Homo sapiens: one gene and its partner. The protein of the gene in region 1 purifies or fractionates together with the protein of each later gene. This does not show direct contact. Each region holds a gene or a part of one and is shown in the gene's direction. Other genes may lie near its edges. The genes, in order: ZNF215 and HECTD1.

Region 1 (3,909 bases):
TTTTTTGGTTCCATATGAACTTTAAAGTAGTTTTTTCCAATTCTGTGAAGAAAGTCATTGGTAGCTTGATGGGGATGGCATTGAATCTATAAATTACCTTGGGCAGTATGGCCATTTTCACGATATTGATTCTTCCTACCCATGAGCATGGAATGTTCTTCCATTTGTTTGTATCCTCTTTAATTTCATTGAGCAGTGGTTTGTAGTTCTCCTTGAAGAGGTCCTTCACGTCCCTTGTAAAGTGGATTCCTAGGTATTTTATTCTCTTTGAAGCAATTGTGAATGGGAGTTCACTCATGATTTGGTTCTCTGTTTGTCTGTTATTGGTGTATAAGAATGCTTGTGATTTTTGTACATTGATTTTGTATCCTGAGACTTTGCTGAAGTTGCTTATCAGCTTAAGGAGATTTTGGGCTGAGACGATGGGGTTTTCTAGATATACAATCATGTCATCTGCAAACAGGGACAATTTGACTTCCTCTTTTCCTAATTGAATACCCTTTATTTCCTTCTCCTGCCTGATTGCCCTGGCCAGAACTTCCAACACTATGTTGAATAGGAGTGGTGAGAGAGGGCATCCCTGTCTTGTGCCAATTTTCAAAGGCAATGCTTCCAGTTTTTGTCCATTCAGTATGATATTGGCTGTGGGTTTGTCATAAATAGCTCTTATTATTTTGAGATACGTCCCATCAATACCTAATTTATTGAGAGTTTTTAGCATGAAGGGTTGTTGAATTTTGTCCAAGGCCTTTTCTGCATCTATTGAGATAATCATGTGGTTTTTGTCTTTGGTTCTGTTTATATGCTGGATTACATTTATTGATTTGCGTATATTGAACCAGCCTTGCATACCAGGGATGAAGCCCACTTGATCATGGTGGATAAGCTTTTTCATGTGCTGCTGGATTTGCTTTGCCAGTATTTTATTGAGGATTTTTGCATCAATGTTCATCAAGGATATTGGTCTAAAATTCTCTTTTTTTGTTGTGTCTCTGCCAGGCTTTGGTATCAGGATGATGCTGGCCTCATAAAATGAGTTAGGGAGGATTCCCTCTTTTTCTATTGATTGGAATAGTTTCAGAAGGAATGGTACCAGTTCCTCCTTGTACCTCTGGTAGAATTCGGCTGTGAATCCATCTGGTCCTGGACTCTTTTTGGTTGGTAAGCTATTGATTGTTGCCATAATTTCAGAGCCTGTTATTGGTCTGTTCAGAGATTCAGCTTCTTCCTTGTTTAGTCTTGGGAGGGTGTATGTGTCGAGGAATTTATCCATTTCTTCTAGATTTTCTAGTTTATTTGCATAGAGGTGTTTGTAGTATTCTCTGATGGTAGTTTGTATTTCTGTGGGATCGGTGGTGATATCTCCTTTATCATTTTTTATTGAGTCTATCAGAGTCTTCTCTGTTTTCTTCTGTATTAGTCTTGCTAGTGATCTATCAATTTTGTTGATCCTTTCAAAAAACCAGCTCCTGGATTCATTAATTTTTTGAAGGGTTTTTTGTGTCTCTATTTCCTTCAGTTCTGCTCTGATTTTAGTTATTTCTTGCCTTCTGCTAGCTTTTGAATGCATTTGCTCTTGCTTTTCTAGTTCTTTTAATTGTGATGTTAGGGTGTCAATTTTGGATCTTTCCTGCTTTCTCTTGTGGGCATTTAGTGCTATAAATTTCCCTCTACACACTGCTTTGAATGTGTCCCAGAGATTCTGGTATGTTGTGTCTTTGTTCTCACTGGTTTCAAAGAACATCTTTATTTCTGCCTTCATTTCGTTATGCACCCAGTAGTCATTCAGGAGCAGGTTGTTTAGTTTCCATGTAGTTGAGTGGTTTTGAGTGAGTTTCTTAACCCTGAGTTCTAGTTTGATTGCACTGTGGTCTGAGGGACAGTTTGTTATAATTTCTATTCTTTTACATTTGCTGAGGAGAGCTTTACTTCCAAGTATGTGGTCAGTTTTGGAATAGGTGTGGTGTGGTGCTGAAAAAAATGTACATTCTGTTGATTTGGGCTGGAGAGTTCTGTAGATGTCTATTAGGTCTGCTTGGTGCAGAGCTGAGTTCAATTCCTGGGTATCCTTGTTAATTTTCTGTCTTGTTGATCTATCTAATGTTGACAGTAGGGTGTTGAAGTCTCCCATTATTATTGTGTGGGAGTCTAAGTCTCTTTGTAGGTCACTCAGGACTTGCTTTATGAATCTGGGTGCTCCTGTATTGGGTGCATATATATTTAGGATAGTTAGCTCTTCTTGTTGAATTGATCCTTTTACCATTATGTAATGGCCTTCTTTGTCTCTTTTGATCTTTGTTGGTTTAAAGTCTGTTTTATCAGAGACTAGGATTGCAACCCCTACCTTTTTTTGTTTTCCATTTGCTCGGTAGATCTTCCTCCATCCTTTTATTTTGAGCCTATGTGTGTCTCTGCACATGAGATGGGTTTCCTGAATACAGCACACTGATGGGTCTTGACTCTTTATCCAATTTGCCAGTCCGTGTCTTTTAATTGGAGCATTTAGTCCATTTACATGTAAAGTTAATATTGTTATGTGTGAGTTTGATCCTATCATTATGATGTTAGCTGGTTATTTTGCTGGTTAGTTGATGCAGTTTCTTCGTAGCCTCGATGGTCTTTACAATTTGGCATGATTTTGCAGTGGCTGGTACCGGTTGTTCCTTTCCATGTTTAGTGCTTCCTTCAGGAGCTCTTTTAGGGCAGGCCTGGTGGTGACAAAATCTCTCAGCATTTGCTTGTCTGTGAAGTATTTTATTTCTCCTTCACGTATGAAGCTTAGTTTGGCTGGATATGAAATTCTGGTTTGAAAATTCTTTTGTTTAAGAATGTTGAATATTGGCCCCCACTCTCTTCTGGCTTGTAGAGTTTCTGCCAAGAGATCCGCTGTTAGTCTGATGGGCTTCCCTTTGTGGGTAACCCGACCTTTCTCTCTGGCTGCCCTTAACATTTTTTCCTTCATTTCAACTTTGGTGAATCTGACAATTGTATGTCTTGGAGTTGCTCTTCTCAAGGAGTATGTTTGTGGCATTCTCTGTATTTCCTGAATCTGAATGTTGGCCTGCCTTGCTAGATTGGGAAAGTTCTCCTGGAAAATGTCTTGCAGAGTGTTTTCTAACTTGGTTCCATTTTCCCCGTCACTTTCAGATACACCAATCAGACGTAGATTTGGTCTCTTCACATAGTCCCATATTTCTTGGAGGCTTTGTTTGTTTCTTTTTATTCTTTTTTCTCTAAACCTCCTTTCTTGCTTCATTTCATTCATTTCATCTTCCATCACTGATACCCTTTCTTCCAGTTGATCGCATCAGCTCCTGAGGCTTCTGCATTCTTCACATAGTTCTCGAGCCTTGGTTTTCAGCTCCATCAGCTACTCTAAGCACTTCTCTGTATTGGTTATTCTAGTTATACATTTGTCTAAAATTTTTTCAAAGTTTTCACCTTCTTTGCCTTTGGTTTGAATTTCCTCCTGTAGCTTGAAGTAGTTTGATCATCTGAAGCCTTCTTCTCTCAACTCGTCAAAGTCATTCTCCGTCCGGCTTTGTTCCGTTGCTTGTGAGGAACTGCGTTCCTTTGGAGGAGGAGAGGCACTCTGCTCTTTAGAGTTTCCAGTTTTTCTGCTCTGTTTTTTCCCCATCTTGGTGGTTTTATCTACTTTTAGTCTTTGATGATGGTGATGTACAGATGGGTTTTTGGTGTGGATGTCCTTTCTGTTTGTTAGTTTTCCTTCTAACAGACAGGACCCTCAGCTGCAGGTCTGTTGGAGTTTGCTAGAGGTCCACTCCAGACCCTGTTTGCCTGGGTACCAGCAATGGTGGCTGCAGAACAGCGGATTTTTGTGAACCAGAATGCTGCTGTCTGATCGTTTCTCTGGAAGTTTTGTCTCAGAGGAATACCCGGCCGTGTGAG
Region 2 (3,909 bases), on another chromosome or scaffold:
AGGCAGCAGAATGGCATGAACCCGGGATGCAGAGCTTGCAGTGAGCCGAGATTATGCCACTGCACTCCAGCCTGGGCAACAGAACGAGACTCCGTCTCAAAAAAAAAAAAAAAAAAACAACAAAAAACTTGGTAAAGGTATAATCCCTTTTTCTAACTTTTCTATTTTTTGTTAATAGCATCACCATTTTCCTAGCTTCCAAGTCCTCTTTCTACGTTAAGGGTTTTTGTTTTTTGTTTTGGCAGGGTCTTGCTCTATTGCCCAGGCTGTAGTGCAGTGGCATGATCATGGCTCACTGCAGCTTCGACCTCGAGGGCTCAGGTGATCCTCCTGCCTTTGACTCCTGAGTAGCTGGGACTACAGGTGTGCACCACCACACCCAGCTAATTTTAAAAATTATTTGTAGAGACAGGGTCTCCCTATGTTGCCTAGGCTGGTCTCCTACTCCTGGGCTCAAGTGATCCCCCTGCCTCTGCCTCCCAAAGTGCTGGGATTACGGGTGTGAGCCATGGAGCCTGGACGGAAATTTTTAAGTTAATCATTTAAATTCTGATATATCTTCTTTCAAAAATTATTTTTAGATTTCTTCCCCATTCATATTGCCAATAACTAGACTTTTCTTTCCTCCATTATTGCAGCATTTCGACAACCTCCAGCTAGTCTCGTCTAGATAGATCCTTTTAGTCGTTCTAGACACTTTCCATAATTAGTCTTCTTAAGACTAGTTTTTCCAGTGTTGTAGTCCAGAACTTGCTACTTAGCTCAGCCTAATTTCTGCATTCCTCATTCAAGGCCTTCCCCACTTTAGCTCCAAATTTCTCTCTCTGTTGCTTACTGTTGGTTCTTTGCTGGGGGCACAGGTGACCTTTCCTATGTCTAGGAACATATCAGGCTTTATGTTCTTCCCTTTCCTTTCAGTGTCTACATTGTACCCATTCTTCAAGGTCCAGAGGGAATGCCACTTCCTTCTTGAAGTTTCCTGGCAGCTCCAATTCACACTCATGACATCTAAATAATTATCCTCATGTGTTGTACTTGGGACAAAATAGTTGAATCCTCTTTTTCCTCTTGTTTCGTTAACAGGATACCTAAACGGACCATTACCTGCGACAACGGGACATGCGCGGATAGCTATCTGAAGTACAAATTTGTCATTTCCAAAATACTGGTTCTTTTTCTAAAGAAGTAGTAAAAAAGAAAGAAAAAAAAGAACCAGTATTTTGGAAATGACAAATTTGCTTAGTCGCCCAGGCTGGAGTGAGGTGGCATTATCAAAGCTCACTGCAGCCTCAATTTCTTGGGCTCGAGGGATCATCCCATCTCAACCGCTCCAGTAGCTGGGACCATAGGTGTGCGTCACCGCATCTGGGTAATTATTTTTTAAATTTTAATTTTTTTGCAGAGACCAGGTCTATGTTGCTCAGGCTGGTCTCGAACTCCGGGCCTCAAGAGAGTAAAATCATAAAGTGCTGGGATTACAGGAAACGCAGCGGACCCAAATTCTGTTCTTTACTCATACCTAGCAGCTCCTCTGGTTGCCTGAGGGACCATGTCTCAAACACTATCATGTCGTATTAATTTTTCTTTTTGTTTAAAAGCTGAAAGTGAGAGTACAGTAGGACGTCTCCGGGCTCCAACTACGTCCTATAAGCATGCATCCTTTATTCTGAATGCGTGTGAAATAAAGTTTGAAAAGAATAACCACAGACATACTTGTGACCACAAGCCACAAGAAACGTAGTCAAAAGTGCACTCTCAGTGCTGCTGCCGACCGGGCACGGCGCTGGGCCTGCATTTGCGCTTTCCTGGAGCCTCAGTGTCTCATCTGTACAACGTTGATAATCGTCGGCAGCACCTCTTTCCCAGGGTTGCTCTGAAGGGTTTTCTTTGGGGTGAACCGCCAGGCGGTCGGCCTCCCAGGAGCGGGGGGAGACGCCTTCCTTACGCGACGCACTTCCGTGCGCGAGGAGGGAAGATCGTGGCTGAGTGCGGGTGGCCTGGGCGGAAGGCTCAGCGGGGACAGGTTGGGCCGCAGCTTTGCTGTGCTGTGCCGTGCGACGCCCTCCGCAGGAGCGCGCAAAGTGTTAGCCACGGCGCCAAGCAAGCTGGACGTGCGTGCATGAGCGCGCTCGGACTGACAGGGAAGCGAAAAGGGGGCCAGGGCGCACCATAGAAAAGCCGCGGCAGAAACGTACGACACAGCCCGAGGCGGCGGGGGCGAGAGCTCCGGGGCAGGGACGGCGACGCGGCGTACCCGGTTTGGCGCCCCTGCGCGGCGGTCGGCCGTCCCGCAGCGCCCCAGGTGGCCGCCGGCGGGGTCGCCGCCGGGGGAGTGGATTTGCTCCGCCTCCGCCGGGCTCGGCTGCCCTCGGCAGCTTCCCCGCCTGGCTCTCCCTCGACCCTCCTCCCCTCCCCCTCCCGGTTCGCGATGGACTGGGCCTCCCCGCCGCGCCGCCGCCGCCGTCGCCCGCAGCACCGCGCGGGCCTCTGAGTTGCAGGGCCTGAGGAGCCGCGTGCTGGGGACTGGACGTCCGCTGGCTGCTGCCGCACGCGAGAACCTCTCGCTTCCCTGTCACCAGGTCCTCGCGGAGGAAGGGGAGGGACGAGGCGCGGCTTTTCCTGTGCCGCCTGCCCGGTTCGACCTGCGCGGCCTGCGGCTTCTTGGGAACTCTAGGGCCGCGGCCGGGCCTGGCTCTGCCGGCGGCCTGTTGGGAGCTGGATCGGAGCGGTTTGGAACGACAAGCCCGAGTAAGAGCCTGCGGGAAGGGGAGGCGGGAGCGCCTCGGACCGTCGGAAGGGCCCTGCGTGGGGGCGCGGATCCCGGACGCCCGGCGAGTGGCGGAAAGCGAGACCCCGGCGCCGAGTGAGGTCGGCCAGGCTGCTGCCGACTTCCCCGCTGGCCCCTTTGTTCCCCTCCCGGGGCCCTGCCGGCGGCGGGGCCCGGTTGCCCGCGCCAGAGCCTCAGGCCGGCTCCTTTTGCCCTTGAGAAGGGTTCGCTGCCAGGCCTTCGAGTTCCGGGCGCAGCTCCCGGGAGAGCCGGCGCCCTGCCTGGCCCGGCGGCCTCCTCTCGGGCACGAAGGCTTGCTGCTGCTTCTCCAGAACTTCCCTTCCTCGTAGACACAGGTAGTTAACTTAGCGGGGTTTGGTGCTGGGGAACCACAGCGCGGGGGCCAGCGCCTCTCAGCGCCCGGCTCGGCCGGGCCCCGGGTGTGGGGTCAACCCCGCTGGTCGCCGCCGTTGGGTGCCCACCGCGCCCCGCCGCCGGCTTCCCACACTTGCGGCTGCGTTACGTGGGACCCAAAGCTGTCCTCCAGTCAGGGCGCTTACGGGGCGCTTTTGTAATGACTTACCTGTTGGGGTTGCTTCTCGGTTTTGTTTTTGTTTTTTTAACCAACTGCCCTATCTTGTGAAGCTGGGGAAAGAGGGCCCTAGGTTGGCCTACATTCGTTCGGATCCGTAACCTGCTGGTCCATTGCATTTACTTTTAGCCTTTCCTTTTTTAATTTTTTTATTTTTTTAACTTTTAAGAATAGTTGCCAAGACTGCCAAAATTCCTAACCAACTCTTTATTCATAGATAAATCTTGTATATAATTGTCGTTTGTATTTGGATATCTTTAAAATAGAAGTAAATTGAGAAGTCAGCAGAATATGTGAAATTGGAGGTAATTTTGAAGGAGAAACAATTTGGAGGGGGATTGGATCAAGGTGTTTAGAGTTTCCTCAAAATACTGAATCTAACCCTTATCTGAAGATCAGTTTTGGGTAGAGAAGGAGGGGGATGAAGTTTGCTGGAAAAAACAGAACCTTTAGTTAGGTGTTCTTTGCCTTTTGGCATAGACTTTAGTGATAGCAGTAGTGGGACCTGAAGCTTGACTGACTGTCTTTGACACAGACAGCTCTGGTTTCT

Evidence for each region.
Region 2: the proteins of ZNF215 (region 1) and HECTD1 purify together in Homo sapiens (co-immunoprecipitation; 2 studies listed by BioGRID and IntAct, with this or other methods). This does not show direct contact.

The regions. Positions count from the first base shown.
Region 1 is NC_000011.10:6,950,219-6,954,127, forward strand, and holds part of ZNF215 (zinc finger protein 215), read left to right. Parts: intron 1-3,909. UniProt on the Homo sapiens protein: May be involved in transcriptional regulation.
Region 2 is NC_000014.9:31,206,230-31,210,138, reverse strand, and holds the start of HECTD1 (E3 ubiquitin-protein ligase HECTD1), read left to right. Parts: upstream 1-2,345; 5' UTR 2,346-3,123; intron 3,124-3,909. UniProt on the Homo sapiens protein: E3 ubiquitin-protein ligase which accepts ubiquitin from an E2 ubiquitin-conjugating enzyme in the form of a thioester and then directly transfers the ubiquitin to targeted substrates.